Homo sapiens: one gene and its partners. The protein of the gene in region 3 interacts with the protein of the main gene of each other region in a pairwise test. Each region holds a gene or a part of one and is shown on either strand. Other genes may lie near its edges.

The links.
Region 1: the proteins of PRPF40A (region 3) and BEND7 interact in binary tests that used the Homo sapiens proteins (3 or more experiments, as listed by UniProt).
Region 2: the proteins of PRPF40A (region 3) and CDKN2C interact in binary tests that used the Homo sapiens proteins (3 or more experiments, as listed by UniProt).
Region 4: the proteins of PRPF40A (region 3) and NAA60 interact in binary tests that used the Homo sapiens proteins (3 or more experiments, as listed by UniProt).

The regions. Positions count from the first base shown.
Region 1 is NC_000010.11:13,526,012-13,534,030, reverse strand, and holds the start of BEND7 (BEN domain-containing protein 7), read left to right. Parts: upstream 1-5,016; 5' UTR 5,017-5,497; coding exon 5,498-5,558; intron 5,559-5,848; exon of another isoform or gene 5,849-6,206; intron 6,207-6,227; exon of another isoform or gene 6,228-6,599; intron 6,600-7,809; coding exon 7,810-7,893; intron 7,894-8,019.
Region 2 is NC_000001.11:50,966,381-50,973,249, forward strand, and holds the start of CDKN2C (cyclin-dependent kinase 4 inhibitor C), read left to right. Parts: upstream 1-3,864; 5' UTR 3,865-3,988; coding exon 3,989-4,117; intron 4,118-6,869. UniProt on the Homo sapiens protein: Interacts strongly with CDK6, weakly with CDK4. Inhibits cell growth and proliferation with a correlated dependence on endogenous retinoblastoma protein RB.
Region 3 is NC_000002.12:152,707,459-152,714,481, forward strand, and holds part of PRPF40A (pre-mRNA-processing factor 40 homolog A), read right to left. Parts: intron 4,910-7,023; exon of another isoform or gene 4,846-4,909; intron 1-4,845.
Region 4 is NC_000016.10:3,439,172-3,446,679, reverse strand, and holds the start of NAA60 (N-alpha-acetyltransferase 60), read right to left. Parts: upstream 3,001-7,508; 5' UTR 2,914-3,000; coding exon of another isoform or gene 2,853-2,913; 5' UTR 2,843-2,852; intron 1-2,842. Other genes in the region: ZNF597 (zinc finger protein 597), read left to right, coding at 3,527-3,559, 5,747-5,873. UniProt on the Homo sapiens protein: N-alpha-acetyltransferase that specifically mediates the acetylation of N-terminal residues of the transmembrane proteins, with a strong preference for N-termini facing the cytosol.

The DNA of each region.
Region 1 (8,019 bases), on a different chromosome or scaffold from region 3:
AACATTAAGCAAAAGAAGTCAGACAAAAAATAGCACACACTCTATGACACCACTTATATGAGGTTTAAGAGCAGGCAAACCCAAGCTATTGTGATAGAGGTTAGAAGTGTGGTTTCCTTGGGGGGCTATCTACTTTGAGGGGCCTCAGGGAAGCCTACTGGTGTGCTGGAAAAGTTCTAAATCTTCATCAGGGTGGGGGATACATGGATGTATATATAAGTAAAACAAATTAATTGAGATATCCACTGAAGGTTTGTGTTCCTTATCATATATAAGGTAGATCTTAAAAAGAACAAAAAAAAAGTATTTTAAAGAACCAAGTAAAAAAAAATAAGGTTCATGCATCATATTTAAGAGTCAGGAAACAGCAGACCATTCTAATTTCACTAAAAAATGGTCTTCAGAATGGATTTTTCTCATTTGCAAAATTGGAATATTAATATATACCAATCTCATAGAACTATTAAGAGTTAGATAATGCATACCTATGCTTGAGCTGTAAAAGAAGCCCCATATAAAATATAAGGTAATATTATTTGTGGAACATTCCAACTCTCATTTTCACTTATGAAATATCTTATAAATACTGCCTCCTTTCTCTTAAATTACAATCACCAAAACCAATGAAGTAAACGGGTGTAGAAACTGCATTAGGCCAGCAACACTTGGGAAACGGCAGCTAAAAGGAGGGCATCTATTCCTTCCATGACCGTCTGATGGGTGATTGTCCTAATGTTGAAAAGTGGATATTTATACATATTAAATCTTCCTGAAGGATTCCCAGAATCTATTTAATGACAGGATATTCAATTCCAGAAAATCCAATCAAAGATTATAAAAAGCCTGAAGCCCAATAATTCCATTCTGCTCATCTTCTTTCTGAGGTGTATTAATAAAACAGTTAAACAGTAATCAAGTTGTAGACATACTACATCTACGTACATAGCATGGTTCAAATCATACATTCCTTCTAAATCTGAGCTGCCCAGTATGGTCACCTGTAACTACATGTGACTATGGACAATTTGAAATTTGGCTAGTTTGAATTGATTTGTAATCTAAGGGTAAGATGCATACCAATTTCAAAACTTTGTATAACAAAAAGCATATAAACTATCTCAATAATAATATTCTCATATTATGTGTCAAAATGATAATATTTTAATGTATTCAGTTAAATAAGATAAATTATTAAAATGAATTTCATCTGTTTATTTTTACTTTTTTCAGTGTGGCTAATAGGACATTTTAAATTACATACATAGCTTGCATTGTATTTCTATTCGACAGCAGAGCTCTAAATAAAGATGAAACTTTTCATAATGCTATTCCTCTCAGGACAGTTTTCAGGAAGAGCATTTCAAGTATTAGCGGTAAGGTTACTTCAGGTTTTCTGGCCAAATTATCTGGCTTTGTCAAAGATTGAAACCAACATGTAATCTTTATAATCAAGTGGGTTTAAGCATGGCCATATAATAAAATGTTTGCCCTGCGTGATGTCATTGAATATTTGACCAATTATCTCTGATCTCCAGTAACACATAAACCTGTGGTTCTGGAACTTTAGGGGGCCTTTAAGAATGAGGCAAAGAGTGCTAGCTTCGGCAGCACATATACTAAAATTGGAAAGAATGGGGTAAAGAAATGACTTCAGTAGATCCCCTAGAAAACTTTCCAGGACCCCTCAATACAGACATTATATTTGAGTGAAAACAAGATGGCTACAGACTGATTTGTGTCCCCCACAAACTCATATGTTGAATCCCTGACTCCTAACGTGACTGTATCTGGAGATTGAACCTTTAATAGAAGGTAATTAAGGTTAAAAGAGATCATAAAGGCGGAGCCCTAATTTGATAAGATTGGTGGCCTTACAAGAAGAGGGAGAGAAAGACAGCTCTCTTCCTATGCCATGTAAGTGTAGTGGTGTGCAAGCTAAGAAAAGGGCCCTCGCCAGAAACTGACCCTGCCAGACCTAGATCTGAAACTTGCAGCCTTTAGAATGGTAAGAAAATAAGCTGCTGTTAAGTCACCCAGTATGTGGTATTTGTTAAGATAGCCCGAACAGGCTAATACAGTAGTCCCCCTTTATCCATGATTTCAGTTACCTGCAGTCACCTATGGCCTGCAAATATTGAATGGAAACTTCCAGAAATAAACAATGCATCAATTTAAAATTGTGCCCCATTTTGAGTGGCATGATGAAATCTTTAGCCAACCTGCTCCTTCCGGCCCAGAATAGGAATCATTCTTTAGCCTAGCGTATTCACATTGTCTGCACTATCTGCTCGTTAGTCACTTGTTGGCTTGGTTATTAGAAAACATAAAACAATAAAAAACACGGTATATATGGGGTTTGATGGTAACATAGTATATACGGGGTTCGGTACTATCCTCAGGTTCAGACATCCACTGAAGGTCTTGGACATACTCCCCAAGGATAAGGATCAGCTACTATATGGATACCTGCTACTTAAAGCAATCTCACTTTATGTTTTATTTTATATTTTAATTTTTTGGTAGAGACCGGGTCTCAGGATGTTATCCAGGTTGGTCTTGAATTTCTGGCCTTAAGCAATCCTTCTGTATCCCAAAATGTTGGGATTACAGGTGTGAGCCACTACACCTGGCCCCAAGCAACCTCATTTTAATTAAACATTATTATTAATTTTAATACTAAATGTGATATATACATTTTTGTTAGATAAGAGCATAGTGATTTGCACAAAATGCAGAGTAAACAGACATTTATTTTCTCTAAAAGCTAATAAGACAAGCGTAGCCTGTGTCCTCTGCAGGCCAACTCACTCATAGACCAACTTTGGAAAGCCAGGTTAAAAAGGGTCAAGGAGAAATGACTACTATTTAAAAATATTCTTACTCAAATATTTTATTCTTAACTATATCAAAAATATTCTCTTCAGTAAATGGAATTTGCATTCCCACTTGAACTGAAAATGCTAAGTTGTTAATACCTTCTCCAGGGATTTACTTCTTGGGATGACACCTTCACTGGGTTCGTCATAGTTTAAGCATAATAAAATCTCATTATATGCTCCAAAGCATGAACGATCCGGGAAGTTCCTCAGTCAGTGTAGAACTTAGCCTTACGGCTTTGAGAATAACATTTTAAAAGGCATTACATAAAGAAAGAATGGATCCCAGCCTGGGGAACAAAATTGCATGCTTTGTTTCTTTAAAAACATCCAAAACAGCCGGACGTGGTGGTTCACGCCTGTAATCCCAGCACTTTGGGAGGCCTAGGCGGGCTGATCACTTGAGGTCAGGAGTTTGAAACCAGCCTGGCCAACATGGCGAAACCCCATCTCTACTAAAATACAAAAAATTAGCTGGGCGTGGTGGCCCATGCCTGTAATCCTAGCTACTTGGGAGGCTGAGGCAGGAAAATCGCTTGAACCCGGGAGGTGGAGGTTGCAGTAAGCTGAGATCGCACCACTGCACTCCATCCTGGGCGACAGAATGAGACTCTGTCTCAAAAAATAAAAAATAAAAAAAAATCCAAAACATCTTCAGATTTTAATGCCTGATTTTAAAGAAAGGGGTGGCAGGGAAGGAAGAAACCCAAATAGGGTAGTTGCTTTAATCACTGTTACCACTAATTTTCTGAGAGCAGCAAAGCGCGTCTAAGAACTCCAATAAATCTATACTAAATTTTATATGTCCCATACATATTTTCTGGGAAAAAGGGCCCTTGAGCTTTGAACACAATCTCAAAGGAAACAGTGACTAAAAAAGGTTAAGAACCTCTTGTTGAAGGGTTTGCTTTATTGAACGGAAGAAACAGTTCTCCCTCTCCCCTCCACGCTAGGTATAACCAGCCTTCCGGATGTGCCGCCTTTGGTATCACCCAAGATCTCGGGATGGGTACCCATCCCTGCCTCCACTGCCTGGTTTGCTGGTTACCCTGCTCTTTGGTTCTGTTTCTCCATGTGTGTTTCTGCAAGCTGCCTCAATGTCCCCCTTCCTCGGCAGTTGTCCTACTCTGTGTCCCTGAAATAAGAGCGGTTCCTCAGCGGCTGCCTCATTTGGGTGAGACCCACGTGACACTCATCACATTTGTCAACCTCCCCTTTTTCCTCTCTACTCTTTTGGGGCCACTGGCCTTTGTCCCGTGCCGGAGAGGTAGCCCCCCCATCCCCCGACTCTTTACCCTCTTCCTGGTTGGGTTTGGCAGATACTTTCACGCATGTCCCGTCATGTTCCTGTCCTACCATTCCCAGGTAGTGTGAAATTCTTTTCCTGGCCCACTCGAAAGATGTGAGAAAGAAATGGTGCCTGAAGTGCGCTCTCTGATCCCCCGAAAAGAATATTACACATAACTACTAAGCGCTTTGTGTTTGGGTCCATGATTCCGACATATGACGTGGAGAAGCATAGTGCCCTGCACCTGCCTTGACCATGGCCTCCTGAGAGTCCCCAGGGCCACCAAGCCCCCCATTCCAAGTGCTCTCCTTGAATGTGACTCGGCTCTTTCCACAATCCGCCCAGCCTGGGTTAGGGAATGGGAGCTCTCTACTATATTCTTCTCCACAATATTCTAAAACCTCCTCTCTGTCCTTCTAGAGAGAGCGCAAATGGGTAAGTTTTTTCCCCCTAAAACTTGCTTAAAATCAGCGCGTCGGGCCCCGGGGCGCCCGGGATGTGAGGGCGGGGAGGTGGTTGTCGGGGCGGTCCGCGCCCCCACGGCGAGGTGCACGGAGTTAGCTCGGCCCAGCAAGCGGCGGAGGGAGGCCAGCGAGCGGGGTCTGCGAGCGGAGGCCCGGGCGGCGGCGTCGTCCCCGGGGGCAGGCAGGCCGGCCGGGCCCGGGCCAGGGCGCTGCGCCGCGGCCTCCGCGCCTCCTCGGGGCGCCGCGCGGCCAGGCCGGCGGCGGCCCCCGGGGATGGCGGCGGCCGGGCTCCGCCAGCAGGTGGCCCTGGGGTCCCAGCGGCACCGCCCCCTCCGCCGGCGCCCCTCCTCCCGCGGGGGCGGTCAGCGCCCCGGCCGGCTCTGCACCCGCCGCCGCCCTCCCCGCAGCCCGCCCGCCGCGTCTTCGGGGCCGCCGCCGCCGCCGCCGCGACCGCAGGCTGAGCCCAGGCGGGCCGGCCGCCCCGAGCCGCCCCCCGCCTCCGCCGCCGCCGCCGCGCCCCGGCCCGGCCCGCTCCCAACGGAAAGTTGGGCTGCGGCGGGCGGCGTCTGGAACCCGCGGGCCGGCATGAGCGGGGGCCGCGGGGGCGCCTAGGGCACCGGGAGGCGGCGCCGCGCGGGGGCAACTTCGCCCGGGAGCCCACGCCGCCGGGCCCCGCGCCTGCAGCCCCGAGCCGGCTCGCGGTGGTTCCTCCCGTCCCGCGGCCTCCCCTCGCCGACTCCAGGCGCGGACCTTGGTCCCGGCGGCTCCGCCGCGGTGACACGAGCCCGCGCCGCCGCTGCCGCTGCCGCCGCTGCCGCTGCCGCCGCTGCCGCCGCCTCCTCAGCCCCCGCCGCCGCCTTCCCCGCACCATGGAGTTCTCCGAGAGGAAAAGAAGCAGGAAATCCCAGAGCTTCAAACTGGTGAGCCGAGGTAAGCGGCCGCCGGGGCGGCGGGGGCAGGCAGCGGGCGCCGCGCCCTCGGCCGCCCGCGGGGGTCCACGCTGGGGGGCGCGCCCTCCCGGAGCCCCCGGTCCTTCCCGGTCCCCCGGTGCCTCCGCCGGGCTGGCAGGCAGGGCCGCGGCCGCACACGCCGGGCGGCGGGGAAAGTTGTGCGGGGGGAGCAGGGATGTTATTTAACGTAAACAAGTCGGAGGGCAGCTCAGGAAATTAGCAAACAATGACACCGGGGGGCCCGAGCCCTCCTCGGGGCGCCTCCGGGGCAGGGCTGGGGCGGCCGCGGACCTGCCTGGCCATCAGGCCGAGCGTGGACCCTCGGACCTGAGATTTGCTGTTTTTGTTTTCTGGGGTCTTCCCCCTTCCCCCCGCCAAGAGAAGGAGGAAAAAGGATGACCGTTGTTGTTCTTTTTAAGAAGGAGAAAGAAGCTCACGCCGTGTCCAAGCCCAAGGCGGAATTGTTGACATCCAACATCTCTAGCTAGCTGATTTGGGTTGGAAAGGTGTTTTAGACTAGATCATATAGCAGTCAGATAAGCATCCTTTAAAAAAAAGAAAAAAGAAAAGAAAGAAAAGAAATCCATCTAGTTTCTGACGAATTAACAGGTGTACACCACACTCTAGGGTTTGTATTTTGTCAGGGAGGGGAAAGTGGAATACAGTCTTGTCTGTGTTCAGTTACTTGTTAAGAGTCTTTATCTTCCTGATTTGACTTTTTTTTTTAAAAAAATGATAACTCAAGAGCCATCGTGAAAATATATCTCAAAATGCATTGTCATCTTTAATTAGGGGCAGGTGACTTTTTTCATTGTAATGTCACAAGTCCTCATATTGAGTTTAGACCCGCTCTGTTTAAATGTCGTCTTTTAATCAAGTTGAGGTCAAAGCCAAACCCCAACCTGTCCACTTTTCCTCTGTCGTTTTCTCTAGCATTGGCATCAGGGTAGAAACTCCAACAACCTGCAGAAGTCACGTGTAAACTGATGAAAATTAGTGAAAAAATCGTGGACAATTGCAAGTAATCGAATTTTTCAAACTGAGCTAAGCTAGCTAAGATGTGGATTTGGTTCATCTGAAAATGCTTTGATTATAGGCATTTTGAAGATCCATTCTTATCTGCCTCCCCTAATTTAGTTTGGATACTGTTTAATGAAAGAGGCCTGAAATAGTTTCACGCATTCAAAATACTTGGCTCTTCCCACTTTCTGAGTAAATTTTTTTTTCCACATCCGTGTTGATTACTCAGTTACTTGGACTTTTAAAAGTCTCTGTCTGGGTGATTGCCCTGTTGGTGCTATCTGATTCATTCAGGAATGTAAGCTGCTTTCTTATTGATGACCTCAGAGAACTTAACTGCTTTATCTTAAAAGTGAGAGTAGTTTTGTTGACTTTGTCCTGTGAGGTCTAAGGCCAGAGAAAGGGGACTAGGTGTTAAGGAGGAACCTCTATTTTCATGCCTTAGTGACCCTGCTTTTCAAAAATAGAAGCAAAAATGCAGTAGCCTCCATAGAGAAGCTTGTAAAATACTGTATTTGAAACTTTGACTGACGTAGCAAGTTTTTCCTTTTTCCTTTTTTCTTTTTCTTTTAATTATAGGTCTGATTCTTCTCTTTCTCTGCAGGTGCAGTTTTAGAAAATAAACTTGCATATTAAATAAAGTGCAGTAGCTGAATGCGAAAGAGTCACTTGTGTGAAAGATGAAAATCTTGCTTTCTTATCCAAATCATACTACATTTGAAATAACAAATCAGTATTTTTCATGTGTGCTTGCCTTTAAGCTGCTTAAAGGCTGAGATTTTCTGGGTAAACTGAGAAAACTAGAGTGCTGGCTAAACTTTAAAGCATACTGTTGATATGCTGGTGAAAATGGGTTGTGAAGAGAAATTTGGAAACCTCCCCTGCTCTATGATTGGGCAAACATACTTGCCACCTCAAAGAAAAAAAGCCTAAAAATTGGCATCTGTGGGTACAATTTACCGTGAACATGGTGTGATCAAGCAAAGCTGTCTTCTAAAGCCAAAGTAATCTTTCAAGTTTGCGTACTCCAGAATAAGCAAAGTTTTAGGAATTATTATTGACTACAAATTCTGTGATTATTTCAGTTCTCAAAAAGTTTATTTATAAATTATAGAGTATACAAACTAAATAGAATGAGATTCTAGACTTGACTGCTTATTCCTATCTTGAGGTCCTTAGGATTCTAATTTTTGGTTGTTTTCTCATGCCAGATTATCACCACGAGGTGTATAAGATCCCAGAATTCAGCAACGATGTTAATGGGGAGGCCAAAGAGACACAGCCCATTTTTTTAGGTAGGTTCCTATGTCAATTAATACCTCAGCAAAACATCGTGACCATTTGCAATTAGGGGGAAAAAAGGAAATTGTTCAGGAACGGGAAATGTCTGCCATTGCTTAATGTATGACATTCTTTTCAAG
Region 2 (6,869 bases), on a different chromosome or scaffold from region 3:
CAAAAGGTTTCCATGACTGTTAATATTTAATATCTAACTATAAAGGCTATATTTCAGTATTTGATGTACTTATCATTTTGATGTTAAAAAGGAAAGCACCACTCTCAATATAGTAGAAACTTAACTATGAATTTTTCTTGTAAGCCATGTTAGAATATAAGCTTATTGAGGGTAGAGATACCCTTGAATCTGCTGTAGTGAACTAGCCCTCAATAAATACTAGATTTTCATTGGAGTTACTGTGTAATACTTATGTATGCCTTCTGAACTAAGACCCTAAGCTCTGCACTGCCAATTCTGGTTTACCCAACAGGCAGATGAAGCATATGCTTCAGGGCACCAGCAAAACCAGAATGTTAAAAAAAAAAAAAAAACCTTTGCCAAATAATTTAATATCTCAGCAAAACCACTGAAGTAGCCATCATGGGAAAAAAATCAGAACTTTGTTGGACTTTTTTACTGTTATTTTGGGGTTCTGTTATTTTTCTTTTTATTTCTATATAAGGAAGAGGTGGTAGAACATCAAAATCTTTTCAGTGCTTAGGGCCTCCAAAAATCTTAATACAACTCTGTGTACATCTTAAATTATCATAAGTTTTCCTTAGTTGTTCAGCAATAAGCATTTTATTTCATGAAAATTATAGTACGTTTACCCGTACTTTATGTAATCATACAATTTAAGATTCTTCCTCTTTACAATTTATCTCTAAGCAAGAAACCATAATAAATGCTAGAAGGCAATCCTCATAAATTGGACTAATACCAGTTCTCTTTTATCAGCCAACAGTGCTAATATGTCCTCACACCCTCTGGCTGTATGAAAAGATTACACAGTTCCCAGAATAATCAAAAGTAAATTATTATTTATTTCTTACTGGTATAAATGGAATCTTAAATGTTTCTATTTGAAACGTCTACATATATGTAAGAAAAAGAGAGTTAATTTCTTGTTTTGTAGTTCTCATTTGATTCACAATTCAAGTTTAGTTACCTAAGAAAAGAACTCTAGTTTTTTTCTCAACAATTACATTAAAGAAAACACTGCCAGATTCTTCCCAGTTTCAACTTTCCCTCTACCTACCAATCTCTTGCTGGATGATTACCCAGATATTTCTGGTGTGTTTTGTTGCTAATACTCCCAGTGTACTTCAAGAAGGGTACAGATACTGCTTGAGGATCCGCTTGCCAAAGGCCGGTTCTAATTAGACTTGTCATTTTTTGCTTGGTTTCATTTTGACCACTGGGTGCATCATGCAACCGTGTTGGATATTTTTAAGAGTATAAAAATACAGAAAGCAATAGTTAATTAATCTCACATAGCTAAAAGAGGAAGTTAAAAGTACTGGAAATTGGTGTCGGATGATTAAATAAAGGATTAGGAGAGAGACCATTCTAGACACCCTCCCCAACCCCACATCCCCAAAATCCAAGCCACTTCTAAGTAGTGAGAGAACTTCGGCAACCAAGAAATGGCTTTGTTAGAAAACACTTCACACGACTTATTTTAAATTTTGCTTTAAATTTAATTGCTTTTCTCCTTTTTCTCTAATAATAGGACTATTTCGCAGTTTCCAGTCCTTGATTAATTAAGGCTTCAGAGTTCGTTCTTACATATGCCATGTCTTAAGTTTTCATAAAATTCAGTCTACACAAGACTTGCTTTTTGTGAGCACTGTGCTTAGTGGCAGTCCGGATTTTTCCCTCCACCCCCGCGGCCACCCCTGCCCACCGCGCCGTCGGGCATGGATCTGGCAGGTGCGAGGCCGAGGCCAGGGCTCAGCGAAGGACGCCGAGTTTACAGAGCGCGCGCGCCTAGAGGAGGCAGCAGCAGCCGCAGCCTGGCCGCCCGAACTTTGCGAGCCTGGCGGGGGAGCACAGAGGCGGGCCGACCTGCCCCGCTAGCGCTGAGGAACGACTCCCTTTATGCCAGCTCGCTGTCCGCCTTCCCGCAGCGTACGCTGCGGAGCCTCAAAGACCCTGCGGCCCTCCACAACCGTCTTAAATAACAAACCCCTGTCCTCGCCCCCGTAGGAATTGGGGCAGCTGGGGGTTCGCGTCACAGACTCAAGCCCGCCAGCAGAAGGGCAGGCCGGACTTCGCGGGGCCGAACCCCGCTCCAGCTGGGGACAGGCCGCCTAGCCGGCAGGAGGGAGCCGGCGCGAGAGACTTGACGGGAGGAGGTGGAGAGCGGGAGGCGGGAATGAGGGCGCGGGACCGGGCGGGCGGAGCGTGCGAGACTGCGAGCGCGAGCGCCAGCAGGGCGGAGGGCGGGGCGTGGGCGGCGCCCGGCCTTCCCGCTCCCGCGGCGCTGCAACTCTGCCGAGCCTCCTTAAAACTCTGCCGTTAAAATGGGGGCGGGTTTTTCAACTCAAAAAGCGCTCAATTTTTTTCTTTTCAAAAAAAGCTGATGAGGTCGGAAAAAAGGGAGAAGAAACCGGCACCCTCTCTGAGAGGCAACAGAAGCAGCAATTGTTTCAGCGAAAAAAGCAGCAAGGGAGGGAGTGAAGGAAAAAAGCAAAAAAGGGGGCGACACGCAAGTGCCTGTAGGGGTGAAAGGAGCAGGGACCGGCGATCTAGGGGGGGATCAGCTACAAAAGAAACTGTCACTGGGAGCGGTGCGGCCAAGGAGGAAGCAGTGCTGCCAGGCTCTGCTCCAGGGCACAGCTGGCTGGCGGCTGCCCTGTCCGCAGCAAAGGGGCACAGGCCGGGGACCGCGAGAGGTGGCAAAGTGGCACCGGGCGCCGAGGCTGCTGAGCGCTCGCCGAGACGGCGACCGGACTGGCTGCCCCGGAACTGCGGCGACTCTCCCTACTCAGAACTTGGCCTACGTTTCCCAGGACTCTCCCCATCTCCAGAGGCCCCCACAAAACCGGGAAAGGAAGGAAAGGACAGCGGCGGCAGCAGCTCAATGAGTGCCTACAGCAGAAAGCCTGAACGAGCTCGGTCGTAGGCGGGAAGTTCCCGGGGGGGCTGCCCAGTGCAGCCGCAATGCTGCCGCGAGCTGCCCCAGCAGTCCGGGCTCCGTAGACGCTTTCCGCATCACTCTCCTTCCTCGGGCTGCCGGGAGTCCCGGGACCTGGCGGGGCCGGCATGACGGGCTTCTCGGGGGCCCGCCGCACGCCCGGCAGCCTCCGGAGACGCGCGCCGAGCCCGGCTCCCACGGCCTCTGAGGCTCGGCGGGGCTGCGGCTGCCTGGCGGGCGGGCTCCGGAGCTTTCCTGAGCGGCATTAGCCCACGGCTTGGCCCGGACGCGACCAAAGGCTCTTCTGGAGAAGCCCAGAGCACTGGGCAATCGTTACGACCTGTAACTTGAGGGCCACCGAACTGCTACTCCCGTTCGCCTTTGGCGATCATCTTTTAACCCTCCGGAGCACGTCAGCATCCAGCCACCGCGGCGCTCTCCCAGCAGCGGAGGACCCAGGACTATCCCTTCGGCGAGACGGATGGAAACCGAGCCCCCTGGAGGACCTGCCCCTGCAGTTCTGCCTCACACGGCTCAAGTCACCACCGTGAACAAGGGTGGGTGAATGCCTTTTCTTCCCCCTGAATGTCTTTCCTTCCGCGGTATTTTCTGCCCCGATCTATAGTCCCTTGAGTCTCCACACACACTCCTCACAGAGATCTGTAGCGTAGGTACGTGACAGCTCTGCCTACATCTGACGTCCGGAGTCATTAACCAGGAATGTATGTGTGTCTGTGTGTCTCTCTGTGGAGTCGTCAGAATTCTTCATAGGGGTTAAGCTAAAAAAGCGAGGCGAGGAGCCCCTCTCCAATGGCTCAGTTTTGCTGAATAATCACGTGTGAATCGAGGGGCGGGCTTTTGGCAGGCAGATCTTACTAGTATTTACTACCAAGCTCTACTCCAGATTAACCATCCCAGTCCTTCTGTCAGTCTCCGATGCCATCATGCAGCCTGGTTAGGAGCAAAGGAAAGGGGAAAAAGAAAAACGACTAATTCATCTTTTCCTGATCGTCAGGACCCTAAAGAATGGCCGAGCCTTGGGGGAACGAGTTGGCGTCCGCAGCTGCCAGGGGGGACCTAGAGCAACTTACTAGTTTGTTGCAAAATAATGTAAACGTCAATGCACAAAATGGATTTGGAAGGACTGCGCTGCAGGTTGGTATTAAGAGAGGTGGGGAAAACAAGTCAATAATGTTGCCTACGTGACCCGGGTTTCTAGATTTACAGCTTTTAAGCTTTCAGGGACATAAAATTTCACTGTTTTTAAACCTAGTTGGTTGCCATATTTTATATCTTTAAGTGGATGCAACTTCTCAAAATGACGTACTTTGAACAAACTCCTCAAATCCAATAACATCCTTGATATCAAGTGGGGTCCAGATTTGGTCTTAGTTTTTGGAATGTTTTTGTGACGGTGGGGATTTTAAAGTAGTCAGTGTAGGGCCGAGGTTTGTTTGTTTTGTTTTGTTTTTAAAGACAGCTCTGTAAACACATTATTATGATTATTATTTGAAGTAAATACACTGCTATTAGTGGTTTTACGTACTTTGCCCCCAATAATAGACTTTAACGTTAATTTTCTTGACTACTGATGAGGGTGTTTTTCCTTCAAATGCTTCAAGTTTTGACAAACGACCTTTCCTCGTTTGGAATGGGTGGCCTGGGCACCGGGACAGGATGTACATTTTACAGTTAATGTAATACCATCCACTCATTCAGGAGTCGGGAGGAATAAAAAGTTGAATTTTCTAATCAGAGCTCAGCTGCAGTGTCTTTGTCTCTACGGTCATGCCGTGGTGTGCTCTAATTTTCAGTAATTAGATTTACAGGCAACAATTGACACATGTCCAGCTGCCAAGTATTGTACCTGATAATTTTTTTCCTCTTCTGAATGTTATCATGTAACTTAGGTGAAAGGCTTAGAAACAGAAAAATGACAAAATAGTTTAAAATAGTTGCTTTATCAGAGTTCTGATGATATTCTTATGAGCTATTCTTATTTGGAAATGCAACACTTGAAGCTGTTTTTGAAAACCCAGTGGGGAGAGGGTTTTTAGAGGGCTTTGTTTCGGTTACAAGAATTAAAAATTTAAGTGCCAAGAGATATACTATTAACAAACAAAGTCCATACAGTCTGTACATTTTCAGTCAGAATACACTGGCCTTGCAAAAATTTCAGTATTAAGGAAGTTTATGCACAGATACTAAATTATTTATCTTGTTATTGCTGCTACATTAAGTAATGATTTTTTTTCCTTTTTCTACCTAGTAGTTTTGAACAGGTTTAGTGATGATAGCAAAGTAACAAATTTAATATATTGAAAAGTTTCCTTTTGAAAACTCAAAAGATTATATAAACTTCACAAAGAATGAACTACTTAACCCATGTTCATGATAAGATTTTACAGGATTTTTGACGAACAGGAAGACTGGGAAATTAATAATATTCTTTTAAAAAGTTTTGACAAACATTTTTAATACAACTTTGCAATCTTGTTTATATTAAACATACTTATCAAGATACTAACACCCACTTATTGTGGCTTAGTCCTTGTACATATAACGAAACACACACACAGAAACTGGAGTTTCAAGGCTTATTTTCAATATGTATAATCCTGACTCTGAAGTTGTGTCATAAGTCAAGAAATAACTTTCTTCAAAACCGTTTCCAATATTGCTATTATTTTCTGTGAAAAAAGGTGAATTTTCTTCTACAATTATGTTTATTTAACTCAATTTCAAAAGCCTTTTCCACCTTCCTAGTGTACATTTTTCTATCAGGTTAATATCAAAGGCCTTAATCGTATGTTTGCTTTACGAAGATCCAAGGTATCTGTCTCTTATTTTTCTCATTCCAGGTCCTTAAATATGACTAAATCTTTAGGGACAGTTGTGGTCGTATCAATTTTTAATAACCAAAAAGTATGTTTCATTGAAGTTCTTGAAATATAAATTATGTATCACTGTTTACCACTGCTCCAAAGGAAGAGCTAAAAATCAACAGTTTTATCAACAGGGGAGCTTAATATCTTGTCCATCTATGTAGTTTGCATTTACAAAATATTACTCATTTTAAATATATTTTGTTATTTAATGTGTGATTAGATTTTTTTAAACAAACATTTAAAAAAGATAGAACGACTTTGTATTTTCCATTAGCATTTAATTTCATAAACATTGAGTGTCTATTATACAAGATATTTATTATAAATTTAGATTATTATGGATATACCTAGATATAAATAAACCAGTGTAAATTCTGAAAATGTGTGGCATGTTAATGAAAGTAATATTTTTTCACAACTAAATTATATGTATTTTATATTTGCATGCTGTTCTACAAGATACTTTATAAGAGACCACTGTTAGAGTGAAATATATTCAAACAATAGTAGATAATCTTTGTTATGTGAATTATTTGTATGTTGATAGCAAGTGTTAATACCACATTCTGACTTTTAAAATGTTGGCAGTTTACAAATAGCTGTTCCTTAAATGCTTGATAATAACTGAAAAAGGAACTAACACAGGATCACCAGTTGATTATTAAATGAGCTCAAACCACAAGACAAGGCTGTCCGTGTCCCAAAACACCCATTAAATATCTTATTTTTTCTTCTTTTGCTCATTTGAAAATCAGGAGGCTTGTCAGAACTTTGAGAAACAGTATATAATGTAATAGGGTGACTATTTCATTATTTTCAAGAACAGTTGTCCTACAATAATTTCCTACTGTGATACAAGGCATATCAGGAACTTAGTTTTATATAAATTGATATCATAAGCAATTTAGAACACTGTGGCTTATTTAACACCTTAATAATCAGTACTGTTTTGTAACTTAAAATGAAGGATTCTAAACATTGAATACACCTAGTAGCCAATATTAAATAACTTGCAAATA
Region 3 (7,023 bases):
TAACTCTCTTTCATCTATTCTATTACTCCTTCTTCTTTCCTCTCTATTGCTGATCACCTCATTATTAATGTAACCGAGTCAATTTCGCCTCAAACTATTATATTTGATGCTTGCCTTGTTATACCCTGTGGAGACTTGACACGTCGAAGCAGCTCTCCACTCCAAAAAAGTACCTCTGTCCTTCCTGGCTCTGCTCAGACTGGATATTAGTGAATCGGGATCATTTAGTCTGGAAAGGTTTCAATAAAGACCCCAATGTCAACTGGGAGTATTGCCCCCCACACCCCGCCAAGACAGAGCTTTTATGCTGCAGTTGGTCCAATGTTCTGTAGACCAATAAAGAGCACAGATGGACTGCCCCAACCAGTAGTTGTAAACGTTCTGTAGACCACTAAAGAGCACGGATAAACTGCCCCAACCAGTAGCTGTAATTTCCTAAAGCCATACATTCACTTTACTAAAGAAACAGCTTCCCCTAGCTGTGAGCTAAACCAGTACTGTCCAATACAGGTTATTATCTCAAACCCTCCAAGTTCTTCCCCTTCTATAAGCCGGTTCCCTTCTTTAAGCCAGTTTTATGGCATGGGGGCTGAGGTTTCAGGAACAGAACCTATTGGATCCTTTGAAATATGCTGCATTGATCCCCTACTGCCTACACTTTCCCCTAAGCCTTCTTCCAAAACCTCTCACAACAAAACTATTGCTCCTCCTCCATCTAATGAAAAGACCAAGGTAGCTATTGTAGAAGTTAAAGACCTAAAACAAACTTTGGCAACTGAGACAGGATATCAAGATGTGAATGCTCTTAAATTTAAAACTCGAGATCAAATAGCTGCAGGATTTGAGTCAATATTTTTGTGAGTGACAACTAATAAAAACGTAGATTGGATAAATTACATTTATTATAATCAGCAGTGGTTTATAATTACACCACGGATGCTGTCAAAGGGTAACAGAACAATTGGGGCCCACTAGCCAGATGGCCTGAGAAAACAGAATGGCCCTAGATATATTAGCCAAAATAGGGGATGTTTGTGTTATGATTAAAATTCACTGTTGTACCTTTATCCCAAACAACACTGACCCCACTGGGAACATAATAAGCGTCTTACAAAGACTTACCGCTTTATCCAATGAACTAACTAAAAATTCTGGAGTCGATAACCCTTTCTCAACATGGCTAGAGAGGTAGTTCAGTAAATGAAAAGGAATCATAGCCTCAATCCTTCTCTTACAGCCATTATAGGTGTGCTCATTCTTACAGGATGCTGTATCATACCCTGTACTCATAGTTTAGTGCAAAGACTTATAAAAACAGCTCTCACCAAAACCTTCCTCAGCTCTCCTCCACCTTATTCAGATAAACTCTTCCTTCTCCTAGACATGCATTGTGTCATAATGGATAGCCTTTCCCTTCCAGCCTAGACAGCTGGGTTCAATTTCAAACATTAGTCAACTGGGTCACTTTAGATTGTGCGGTCCAACCCTAGCCAGTAGGGGAAAGACACAACAGTGGGGACCAGCTGTGTTAAGAATAAGAACCTCTTCCCCTCCCTTGTCCATCTCACGATTGCTCCATCTGCAAGACACACCCTTCTACAGAAGTAAACTGCCTTGCTGAGAAAACTTTTGCCTGAGTGCTATTTTCACTTTGCAACACTGAACATTCACTTCCAACAATCACATCTCTAATAACTGCTAAGTACAACTAACTTGCTTAAAATAAGTGATACATAATGTACAAGTACTTGACCAGACAGCGAAAGAAGGCAAATACAGGTTGAGAGGCCTTTATACAGAATGCTTGACACCAGACTGGGATTTTTTCAGATTTGCAGATATTTGCCTTTTTACCTACTGGTTGAGCATCCCTAATTCAAAAATCTGAAACATTCCAATGAGCATTTATTTCGAGTGTCATGTTGGCACTCAAAGTTTTAGATTTTGGAGCATTTCTGGTTTCCAGATTACAGATACTCAACCTGTATAAAATATTCATAGCCACTAGATTTCCAAATGTACGGAAATACCATAACAACCAAATCAGCAGTTAGAAGACAAAAATGAGTTCAAAATGGCATCTCAGGAATGACCTCCTTGAGAGCAGGGCATACATCACCTGTACACTAGGTACCACACCCAAGATACTTAAATGTGTACTGAATAAAAGAAAAATAAAGGTAAGGAAAAAAATAAGAATGAGACTGATAATTTCTACTTGGAATGTCATCTATTAATTCCTACTTATAAACCTTCACAACATGGACCTATTTCTCTAGGTTAAAAACAGGTTGGGCAAGGCGGCTCATGCCTGTGATCCCAGCACTTTAGGAGGCCAAGGCAGGAGAATCACTTGCGCCTTGGAGTTCGAGACCAGCCTGGCCAACATGGCGATACCCTGACTCTACTAAAAATACAAAAATTACCTAGGCATGTGGCACGCACCTGTGATTCCAGCTACTTGGAGAACCTGGGAGGATGAGGTTGCAGTAAGTGGAGATTGCACCATTGCACTCCAGCCTGGGTGACAGACACTCTGTCTCAAAACAAACAAACAAACAAACCCCAAAATCCCTAGTACACTGCTATGGTGTAGCATATGTACCAAATCTTTTTTTTTTTTTTTGAGACAGTTTTGCTATTGTTGCCTAGGCTGGAGTGCAATAGCGCGATCTCAGCTCACTGAGACCTCCACCTCCCAGGTTCAAGCAATTCTCCTGCCTCAGCCTCCCAAGTAGCTGAGATGACAGGTGTGCGCCACCATGTCCCGCTAATTTTTGTATTTTTAGTAGAGATGGGGTTTCACCATGTTGGTTAGGCTGGTCTCAAACTTCTGACCTGAAGTGATCCATCCACCTCGGGCTCCCAAAGTGCTGAGATTACAGGCATGAGCCACCGTGCCTAGCCTCAAATCTTTACTATCTATTAATACTACTATTAGTCTTATCATGATATTCAACAAGCCTAATTTAAAAATCAAAGGTTAATCTATTGACTTGTTTCCTCTTTTGATCCACTATCTAATGAATACATTCATTGCACTACACAAGCTGTTTCGTTTATGCATATGTGTGTTAACACTAACTTATTTTGATGTTGCCTTTTTCTCCTAAAGAGCAAACTAAAAGAATAAAGGGCCCTAATTCAGCATTTCTCACAAAATGCTAATTTCATACAATGTGCTACACAAAGCAAAACAAATGCTTTATGTGGGAGATTTATGGGGGAGATGGTCAAATAAGACAGAAATACTAAGTAAAAATTGTAAAAGGCTTCTGCAAGACTTCTCATCACTTTAGTAAATATTATGCCTTGTGAATTTCAAAAGGGGAGCAGGGGATGCCGGTCATTCTTCTCAACTGATGTGGTCCTCCTTAGATCTTTCCACACTAAGTTTGTGAATAGATGAGCTCATATTTAAATGAACTGCTATCTAAAGATAATGAAAATAAACGTATTTGTAGTCTCACTATTAACATTTGTCAAAAATCTAACCACATTGAGTCAAGAATTTACAGACATTAGGTCTGAGTTAAGATATTTTTTAAAAGTACTTGCTTGAGTCATCCACATGTACCCAGAAGTTACCCAGATTCAAGAATTATGAGCAGATGACCTAAAAAACAAAAATTCTATCTCTTTTTTGTCACTGGCTAATGCCCAATTCAATGGCATGGATCCTGTAGCTACTCAAAAGGAAGGGTAATTCAGAAGGAACAGCAACAAATAAATTTGTCAAATCAGTCAGGTAAGTCTAAGGTACCAATACACTAAATTTCTCTGCAAGGCCTATATCCTACTTTGTTATTTTTTCCTCTACATTACCTCTACATTACTTATAATACCTTACACAATGTAAATGCTATAAAAGTTATTATACTTTATTTTTAAAAATTTGTATTTTTTTGTTGTTGCTTTTTTAAAGACTATTTTCCATCGCAGTTGCTTGAATCTCTGGATACAGAGGGTCGACTGCAAATGGAAATATTTTAGTTTTATTCTCCAAACAAAAATTATTTATTTCATCTTATTTATCTTCCATTTTTGTCAAATGAAAAAGTAAGAGTAAAGAGGCAGACACTAAAAACAAGAATAAGTAGTAACAACGTAAAGTCACAAGTAACCACTGGAAACAGTCACATTTAACACTGACTGACTTATGGGCTTATACTGCAGGAAAGAATACCTGTGTATTTGTTTCATTCATTCAACAAGTATTTTACTGAGCACCCATGATGTGCCAAGAACTGTGCTCAGCACCTATAGGCTTCTTAAAAAGTACAGAACATAGCCCCTGCCCTCTAAGAGCTTACAATCTATTACTTGTTGGAAAATTAAAGCAAATTAAGAAACCATAAAACAAGTCAATAACTAGGTGCCAAAATAAGTGAAACGGTAAGAGTTATGGGTAGATTACAAATATTTTCTTTAATAATCTGAAGGGGAGGTATATGTTGGCAAAAGTCATTTTTGAGAAACTTTTGGAGAAGGCAGGACTTGAAATAGTACAACATAGGTAAGCAAAGCAAACTTCATGGTGATACTGAGCTGGGGGCAGGAGGGTAAGAAGAACAGCCTAAGTTTGAAGTTGTGAACTAATATAATCACTCAAGACACCGTGAAAAGACCAGCCTAAGTTCAAATTAGGGAGTGTAAAGACATGCAGCCTTGAATCCTGCTTTGACATGTACTATGGGGAGGTTCTTTAAAGTTAAGCTGTGGAATTTAGATACTATGTTATAGGCACTGAAAGTACTGGAGATTCTTGGGCAAGGAGATAACACATTGAAATCTAAAATTTGTGGGGGCAGGGGGGCATCCTTGAAGCAAGAAAACCAACTCAACTCAAAAACTGTTGAATAACCTAGGCATGGGAGAGTGACGACTTGGGCTCATGTGGTAGCAGGAACTGAAATAAAATAAGATCTATTAGAGCCAGCCTTACTCAATATAGGAGCAAGAAAATCAAACTCATTTGTAAAAAGCAATTATTCATTTATCAGTTTACTGACCAAAGACCAAAAAAAAAAAGCACTGAATAAATAGAATTAGGGAGGCATTACTAAAGGAATTTTCTGTTCTTTCCATATCATCCCATAAAATCTGATATCTACTCTTATCAAATGATCTGAACTGAATCATAGGATGTTAGAGCTGAAAGGGACCTTAACTCAATTACTCTACTCTTCTCACTGATAGAGGAAAATAAAGACTCAAATAGGGAGGAAAAAAAAAGAGCCAGCTAGCATGACTCTGGGGCAAAGGCATAATCATCTGTGATAAAGATGGCAGGACCTGCATGTCCTTTGTGTAGAAAACACAAAAGACATGAAAACAGTATTTACTATGGACACTGAGGAAGAAGACAGCCTCACACATAATTTTATTGATAGAAATCTCTACAGAAAATCTTTATTTTTTTGAGATAGGGTCTCACTTTGTCACCCAGGATGGAGTGCAAGGCGTGATCTTGACTCACTGCAGCCTCGACCTCCCAGGTTCAAGCAATCCTTCTGCCTCAGCCCCCTAAGTAGCTGGGACGACAGACGCACACCACCACACCCAGCTTATTTTTAAATAGTTTTTGTAGAGATGGGGTTTCACCATGTTGCCCAGGCTGGTCTCCAACTCCTGAGCTCAAGCGATGCACCCGCCTCAGCCTCCCAATGGGAAATTTTTGAGTACTGCCATCCAGCAGGGAAAATTCTTTATCTTTCTTTACTAACATTTAACCAGTGATCCTCAAAGCATCTTAAATCACATATTATTTAAAGCTTAAACAACCTGTAAGGTCCCTTTCAGCTATAAGATCCTATAACTCTAAAAGTATGACTTTCCTATAAAGTTATATAGAATAAGAGGCAAATTTAATCTACAAGATAGAAAACTGAAATAAACCTGAAAGAATATTAAGCTCAATTTGATAATCATCAAATATTTATTACTACTAAGAGTCAGCCTAAATGCATGAGATGGCACTCTAGGTCATCTCATGAATTAAGAAAAAAAAAATTTGAACACACCACTTCTTTAAGCTAAATAGCTTGATGCATTTGAGAAATTATGAACCCTGGCTTCCGTACATCATTATGCTACCCAGTCTGCATATTATTTTACAAACAAGTTTTACAGTTTCATGTCATATTGGTAACATTCCAAAGACCACAATTATTTGGCAAGTAAGACTGCCACCAATTTTAGTCTTTAGCTAGTCCCAGCATGAGATGTTCATGCAAACCAGTCAACACATGAAGGTTTTTATAACCTTCAGTCCCAAAGTCTAAAGAATTTGTGAACTGACTTTTTTAAATTGCATGGCAGAACCCTCCCAACTGTCACTACTGTGAATGATACAGACAGACATCCTGCTTCTTCTCAATTATCTTCTGACCACTTATTCCTCCTGAGTACTTCCAAGAGTGGCAGAAGAAATAATGCAGGAAAAAGGATCAATTGTCCTATTTATTATCACCTTTAATTTTTAAAGCAATGTTTACAGAGTTTCAAATATGATTTCTGATTTGAGAATTCAAATTATCCATGCTCTCCCAGTCTGTTATAAAGCTAAAACAAGAATTTGTTTTACCAAGATTTGGGACCCATATTTGTTAGTGAAATATTAAGGGGATAAAAGGGAATTATATAATTCTGACAAAAACAGCGGAGATTCTTTTGGGACTTTCAGGGCATAACTCCTACTAAAACATTTATTTATTATACTAACAGGAGCCTTCAGAGGGAGAAGAATTCTAAACATCTAAATAATTAGGTCTACTTAAAGGCACGTGGCATATATTAGCCTAGGAAAAAGTAGAAGAAAACCACACCAAAAAAATCAGTTATTTGAATGGATGTGTACCGAGTAGCAAGTAAACTTACTAGAAAGATGGTCACTGATACAGCTAAAGAGAAAGGGCCATAAAGCAAACTGTGACCAGCTTATGTCAATGAGATACATGAAAGTACTTTTAAAAAATAAAATCTGCATTTTTTTTTTTAACTAGAACTATGACTAGCTGGTAT
Region 4 (7,508 bases), on a different chromosome or scaffold from region 3:
GAGATCGCACCACTGCTCTCCAGCCTGGGCAACAGTGAGACTGTCTCAAAAAAAAAAAAACAAATAATAAAGAGTAAATAGTGGTGATCTCTGGGTGACAGGAATGTGTTGCCATTTTTTCCCCTGTATTTTCTTTTTTTTTTTTTTTTCAGACAGAGTCTCACTCTGTCACCCAGGCTGGAGTGCAGTGGTGTGATCTCGGCTCACTGCAAGCTCCGCCTCCCAGGTTCACGCCATTCTCCTGCCTCAGCCTCCCGAGTAGCTGGGACTACAGGTGCCCGCTACCACGCCTGGCTAATTTTTTGTATTTTTAGTATAGATGGGGTTTCATCGTGTTAGCCAGGATGGTCTCGATCTCCTGACCTTGTGATCTGCCCACCTCAGCCTCACAAAATGCTGGGATTACAGGCGTGAGCCACCGCACCCAGCCTTTCCTAACTTTCTGAAATGCACATATACTACTTTTGTAATGATGTTAGTTTTACTATTTTTAAAAAGATAATTTTCAGAGAAAGCAGATGCTGGGCTATAGAAATAATTTCAATACAAACAGGTTGTAGTTGTTATTACTGGTACCATGTTAAAGACAGAAATGGAAAAACTTGCAAAAGATTGTCGTGGAAGGATTTTTAAATTTTGATGATTAAAACATGTTACTTGAACATATAGTGGGTATACAGTCAAGCATTTGTGATTTTTTACAAAATTGAGTTAGGGATATAATGTGGTCTAATTTTTCAATCTTGGTCTATCTTGGACTTTGTATGTCATCTCTTTATTTTCAGGAAGATAAAGCTTTCAAGCTTCCTCCTTCTTTGTCCACTTGTTTATAGTTTTGATGGCTCTTAGGAAAGATAGTCTAGGGAAGATTTTTTCCTCTCCCATTTCAGGTATATCCCTCTCTCTCTGGTAATCCACTGAGTTAATACCACATGCTTCATTTCAAAGCATTGGAAACTGTGTTTATTTCTTTGTAATTATGGCAACAGGATTTAAAGAAGAGAGCCACGGGAGTCTCTTGTTCTTGGTGAAAGAGCCACAAATCCAGATAAGGAGAATCTCAGACCACAATGAGACAGTGCTGATGTAAGAATAGCATTAAATAGGCGGGGCGCGGTGGCTCACGCTTGTAATCCCAGCACTTTGGGAAGCCGAGGTGGATCATGAGGTCACGAGATCGAGACCATCCTGGCCAACATGATGAAACCCCATCTCTACTAAAAATACAAAAAAAAAAAATTAGCCGGACGTGGTGGCGGGCACCTGTAGTCCCAGCTACTCAGGAGGCTTAGGCAGGAGAATCATTTGAACCCCGGAGGCAGAGGTTGCAGTGAGTCAGGATTGTGCCACTGCACCCCAGTCTGGCTACAGAGTGAGACTGTCTCAAAAAAAAAAAAAAAAAAGAGATAAGCACAAACCAAGAAGGGAAAGATGACTACGTGAACACCACAGTGACTCAACCATGAACATCTCCTTTACTTACACCTTCATATACAGGCTATTAGCTCTTCTTCAACATATATGCTTTGGACTGGTCTAGCCTGTAGGCAAGTTTGTTCTTACCATTCTTCCACCTGTCCTGGAAGCACCTTTACTGGGACTTCACAGCTACCTCTTTTGTGATCCATCCCCACAAGGTCTAGCTCTTAGTTAGCTGTCAAGAGATATCATTTGTGGCAGATACTGCTAGTTTCTTATCTAACTTATTTTCCACATCTCTTTTTTTCATTTGTAACAAAGCCCTAATTTTGTGCAGGTAGATTATCAAGGGAGGCTAGGTCCTTCCCCTAGTGACAGGGGCTGAAGCATGATGGGCCCCAAACAATTATTTATTCTTGGTAATAACTAGTTTAGGATGGGTACATGACACAATACATGTCTGTATATTTTACCTGGATTCTATTGTCAACGTTACCAACATGCTTAGGGTGGCAGAGAAGCACTGGGACCTTGATGTTGTCACTGGGCCACCGAATTAACCAACCTGTAACTGCTCTTTGAACATCCTTTCGGTGGGTTTTCTGTTACTTGTAGCTGAAACTATCCTATCAGATATTCCACAAAATCACATTACCTAAGTTGTCAAATCTCCTAATATTGTTTTAATAACCATGCAGCCATTCATTAAGCTTTTAGATACAGGAATGTGCCTGGCACTGGAATAAGGAAATATGTTGAGACTTTTCAGGCTTTTCTATCAAGGTACCTATCATTTTCGTCTTTTTTTTTCCCCAAACACCTTTATAAACTGGCAATTTCTTTCACTTACATTATCTTATAATCTTTGAAATTACCCTCTGAGTTAGCCCAGAGAGGCACTCTGAGCTGTTTGCAGCTGAGGAAAGCAAAGTTGTAAACTGGCCAAGATTACCAACCAATCAGTGGCAGAGCTTGGGGAGGAGCTCAATTTTCCAATTCCAAATGCCTACACCAGGGCACTCCCTCCTCCCCCAGCACACAATAGGAAATGACTGGCTCTAGGGTAGGCTGCATGTGAGGTATCCGGGGGCGAACAACGTCCTGCGACGCTAACCTATGGCTCTATTCTCGCGTGGGATCCTGTGACTAGGAAGCTGAAGCAGCTCGCTTAGGCTGCAGCTGCGGGTACAATACGTAATGCCTCTATAACACTTTGAGTCAGAGTCCAGCAACCTGGCCTACACCGATGTGAACGTTGTGAACGTACACAAAGATACTCCTTCATGTTCCACGGCCCCACCATCCGCTCAAGACACAAAGGACAGCTCAAGCCCAGGCTAGGCCCGAACCCCCGCCCTCTCAATCACCTTGCTCTGGCCAGACCGAAATTTCAGGCCTACAGGGCACTGTTGGCCGAACCCACATTTTGTTACCGATTTTCTTTCGAGTTCCGGTGTCTCCCAGTCTTCTTTCTGTCCTTCTTCTCGGAAACATTACGTCCCCCTGGGGTCACCCTAAGACTCTACTTCAGCAGGCAAACAGGCCCGGAGCTCACGGAGGAGACCCCGCCAGCGGAAGCGGAAATGGTTGCTTAGAGAAAAGGAGGAAAACTACCTCTCGCAGCTGCCCAGTGGCTACAGGTCCTCGGTTAAGGTGTTCAATTGGTCAACACAAAAGAAGGACTTCCCCTTCGGGAGAACTTCGACCAATCAAAGGGCAGGATGGCGGAGAGGGCTGAGGGCGGGTCGCTTCCGGCGGCTTTTCCCGCAGCTCCTGCGTAAAGGAGCATGAGAGCGTGGGAGTTTTGCAGTGGCCGTGGCGTTCTTCGTCGCGTCTCGGTCGGGCGTCGCTTTCTGCAGCTCCTGTCAGGGAGCGCGAGGCCTGTTATTAACCGCGGAGCGGTAAGTGGGCCCCTTTCGAGGCCGGGCCAAGAGGAGGAGCAGTCGGCGTAGGTTTTTAAGGGGGGGTTCGGAGGGAATCGAGGGAGGCTAGGGGTAGTGGAGGAACTTGGCAGCGGAATTGGTCCCTTTAAGAACTGTTCTCTCCCCCCGCAGCTTTGTCACGAAGTCCCTGTGGCGTCTTGAAGAAGGCATTCCCCACCCGCCAAATGGCGTCCATGCCCCCGACGCCCGAGGCCCAGGTGAGTCGAGGTACCTTTTTCGTCCAAGTTTATTGCTGCTTTCGGTCTCTGCCTGACCCCCTCCTTTGGAGGAGAGTTGGGCATGCCTGTTGTGGTAGGAGTGCTCCTGAGCCCCAAATAGCCCTTTGACCAAGTGTTCTTCGTTCCAAGACCACACACATAATGGTTTACCAACTTCCTTCTTTCAGAACTACCAACTGGGAGCAGGGACCTGTGGAGGAATCTCTGAGAGAGTTTCTCAATGTCTTATCTGTTTGTTTTGTTTTGTTTGGAGATAGGGTCTGGCCTTGTCGCTGGAGTGTTGCTTGTCTGGCTGGAGTGCAGTGCTGATATCATAGCTCCGTCTGGAACTCAGGGAATCCTTACGCCTCAGCCTCTCGAGTATCTGAGAGGCGCGCATACCACAGTGTCTGGCTACTTTTAAAAGTTCTTTTTTTTTTTTTTTTGATACAGAGTCTCGCTCTGTCGCCCAGGCTGGAGTGCAGTGGCGCGATCTCGGCTCACTGCAAGCTCCGCCTCCCGGGTTCATGCCATTCTCCTGCCTCAGCCTCCCGAGTAGATGGGACTACAGGCGCCTGCCGCCACGCCCTGCTAATTTTTTGTATTTTTAGTAGAGACGGGGTTTCACCGTGTTAGCCAGGATGGTCTCAATCTCCTGACCTTGTGATCCGCCCGCCTCGGTCTCCCAAAGTGCTGGAATTACAGGTGTGAGCCACTGCGCCCGGCCTAAAACTTCTTTATGGAGATGGAGTCTTGCTGCTTTGCCAAGGAACTCCTGGCCTTCAGCTATCCTCCCACCTCGGCTCCCCAAAGTGCTAGGATTAAAAGTGACTTTCTGGAATGGTTCCCAAAATTACAGATTTGGTACTTCTCCAATTTGAATGAATTTTTAAATTAAGCACATTTCTAGACTCCACACTCGTTGAGTAATAATAAATCCCAAGTGATTAATTTATCACACCGTTAGAGAAGGTGGGGTAGGCCTGGATGAAGTGCTGGAGTGAGCTTAGCAATGAGTGTCATGGGGACGAGAGGAAATAGCAAAGGGAAGGATGTTGGGAGAATCCTGTAACCTTTATCTCTTTATGATTCTTCCTGGGCTGCCCAACTTTCTCCTTTTCTTTTCTTTTTTTTTTTTTTTTTGAGACAGTCTCGCTGCGACGCCTAGGCTGGAGTGCAATGGCGCGATCTCGGCTCACTGCAATCTCTGCCTCCTGGATTCAAACGATTCTCCTGGCCCAGCCTCCCAAGTAGCTGGGACTACAGGCGCATGCCACCACATCTGGCTAATTTCATTTTATTTTAATTTATTTTTTGAGACAGAGTTTTTTTTGTTGTTGTTTTGTTTTTGTTTTTGTTTTTGAGATGGAGTGTCGCTCTGTTGCCCAGGCTGGAGTGCAGTGGCACGATCTCAGCTCACTGCAAGCTCTGCTTGAGACGGAGTTTTACTCTTGTTGCCCAGGCTGGAGTGCAATGGTGCAATCTCGGCTTACTGCAACCTCTTTCTCCTAGGTTCAAATGATTCTCCTGCCTCAGCCTCCCAAGTAGCTGGGATTATAGGCATGCGCCACCACACCTGGCTAATTTTTTGTATTTAGTGCAGACAGAATTTCACCATGTTGGTCAGGCTGGTCTTGAACTCCTGACCTCAGGTGATCCACTCGCCTCCACCTTCCAAAGTGCTGGGGTTACAGGCGTGAGCCACTGTGCCCAGCCTTAATTTTTGTAATTTTAGTAGAGACAGGGTTTCACCATATTGGCCAGGCTGGTCTCGAACACCTGACCTCAAGTCATCTGCATCCCCCTCAGACTCCCAAAGTGTTGGGATTACAGGCATGAGCCACCACACCCGGCCCCAAACCTCTCCTTTTCTTAGAGCATCCTCACTTAATGGTTGCCTCCCTAAGAGCCATTCCCTCATCTTTTCTCTTTCAAGATAGACAATAATTCTCACAGTCCACCGTCCTTGTACCACTGCCTAAAAATGTATGTCCATGTTTACTCTCTTCTTCCCAACCCTCACCCCACCCCTTAGAACCCATTTGCCCTACTTCTGCGCTCAAGAACCTTTTACACCGAGCCTTTTATCCCGTGCATCTGATGTTTCTAGCTCTTTTCATCCTTCCTAGGTTAAGTGAGGGGCTGACCCTCCACCCTCTTGTGCTGACACAGGCTCTTGTGTTTCAGGGACCAATACTCTTTGAGGATCTGGCTGTGTATTTTTCTCAAGAGGAGTGCGTGACTCTGCACCCTGCCCAGAGGTCCCTCAGCAAAGATGGTACAAAAGAGTCTTTGGAGGATGCGGCTTTGATGGGTAAGGCAATTGTTTTTCCTGCATCTGGAACTTTTGTCAATTCTAGGAGGAGAACTTCATGCTTTATCCAGATGTTGGTATGGTGGAGTGGGACCTGTCCCTCAGTAATTTATGTGGAGGTGATAATTGTGTGAGAGAAAAAGTTTTAAAATATGAGATGATTTTTTTTTTTTGAGACAGACTCTCGCTCTGTTGCCCAGGCTGGAGTGCAGTGGCACGATCTCTGCTCACTGCAAACCGCGCCTCCCAGGTTCACGCCATTCTCCTGCCTCAGCCTCCCGAGTAGCTGGGACTACAGCCGCCTGCCACCATGCCCAGCTAATTTTTTGTATTTTTAGTAGAGACAGGGTTTCACCGTGTTAGCCAGGATGGTCTCAATCTCCTGACCTTGTGATCACCCGCCTCGGCCTCCCAAAGTGCTGGGATTACAGGCATGAGCCACTGAGCCCGGCCGAGATGATCTCTTAAAGACAAAAATTCAGTCTAGTACAGTGCCTGTGGTTTAGTACAAGAGATGGCAGTATTTGGTAATCTTTCACAAACATTTGTTGCAGTTTACAATTTTACTTGGGAAATCCCATTAGTATCGATCACTATCATTTGCTAAAGACTGGAGATTGATTTACTCTTAAGGGGTGCTATGCCTTACTCACCTAAGGGGAACCATACACAGATGGACTCCTGTGCCTGACTAGATTTTATTTCTGACTAGGATTGAGTATCTAAACTATCTATTCTAAGTAGTTATTCTAAATAGTTTGGAATAGTTGAGATACTCAATCCTAGTCAGAAAAAAATAACTAGAGTAACTAGTTATTCTGAATAACTCATATTTTGTTTCTTCCACTTCTCTCTTCATCATGTTCATGTTGTCTTCTGTCTGCGTAAATGTATGGAGTATATTTATAATGGTTATTTAAACTTTTTTTTCTTGCTAGTTTTAACATTGATGTCATTTCTGGGTCTGTTTCTATTGATTGATTTGTCTTCTAGTTATGGGTTATATTTTCTATATTTTCTTTACTTCCTGGGTAAATTTTGGTCGGATGTTAGATTAAGAATTTTATGTTGTTGGACCCGGGATTTCGTTGTATTTTTAAAAATATTTTGGACTTTGTTGTGGGAGGCAGTTAAGTTACTTGGAGTCAGTTTGACTGTTTCAAGGTGTGCTTTTTTTTTTTGCTTTGTTAGGATAGGTTCAGATCAACCTTTCTGCTAGGACTTATTTGAGTTACTGCTAAGGCAGTTTTTTTCTGTGGACGTTGCTGCTCAATGTCTTATGTCTTTCCACTTTGGCTGGAGGCAACATGAACTGGTTATTGCTCTGTTATTCCTTTTAGGTGGTTCTTTCCACGGCATTGGGTAGTTTCTTCATGCACTTGTAGATTACTACTCAGCCAAAGTTGTGGGGTTATTTTTTTTTTGATACAGTATCTTGATCTGTCACCCAGGCTGGAGTGCAGTGGCACAATCACGGCTCACTGCAGCCCTGACCTCCCAGGCTCAAGCAGTCCTCCCACCTCAGCCTCCCAAGTAGCTGGGACTACAGGCATGCACTACCATGCTTGTCTTTTTTTGTTGTTTTTTTTTTGTAGGGATGGGGCTTTGCCATGTTGCCCAGGCTGGTCTCGAGCT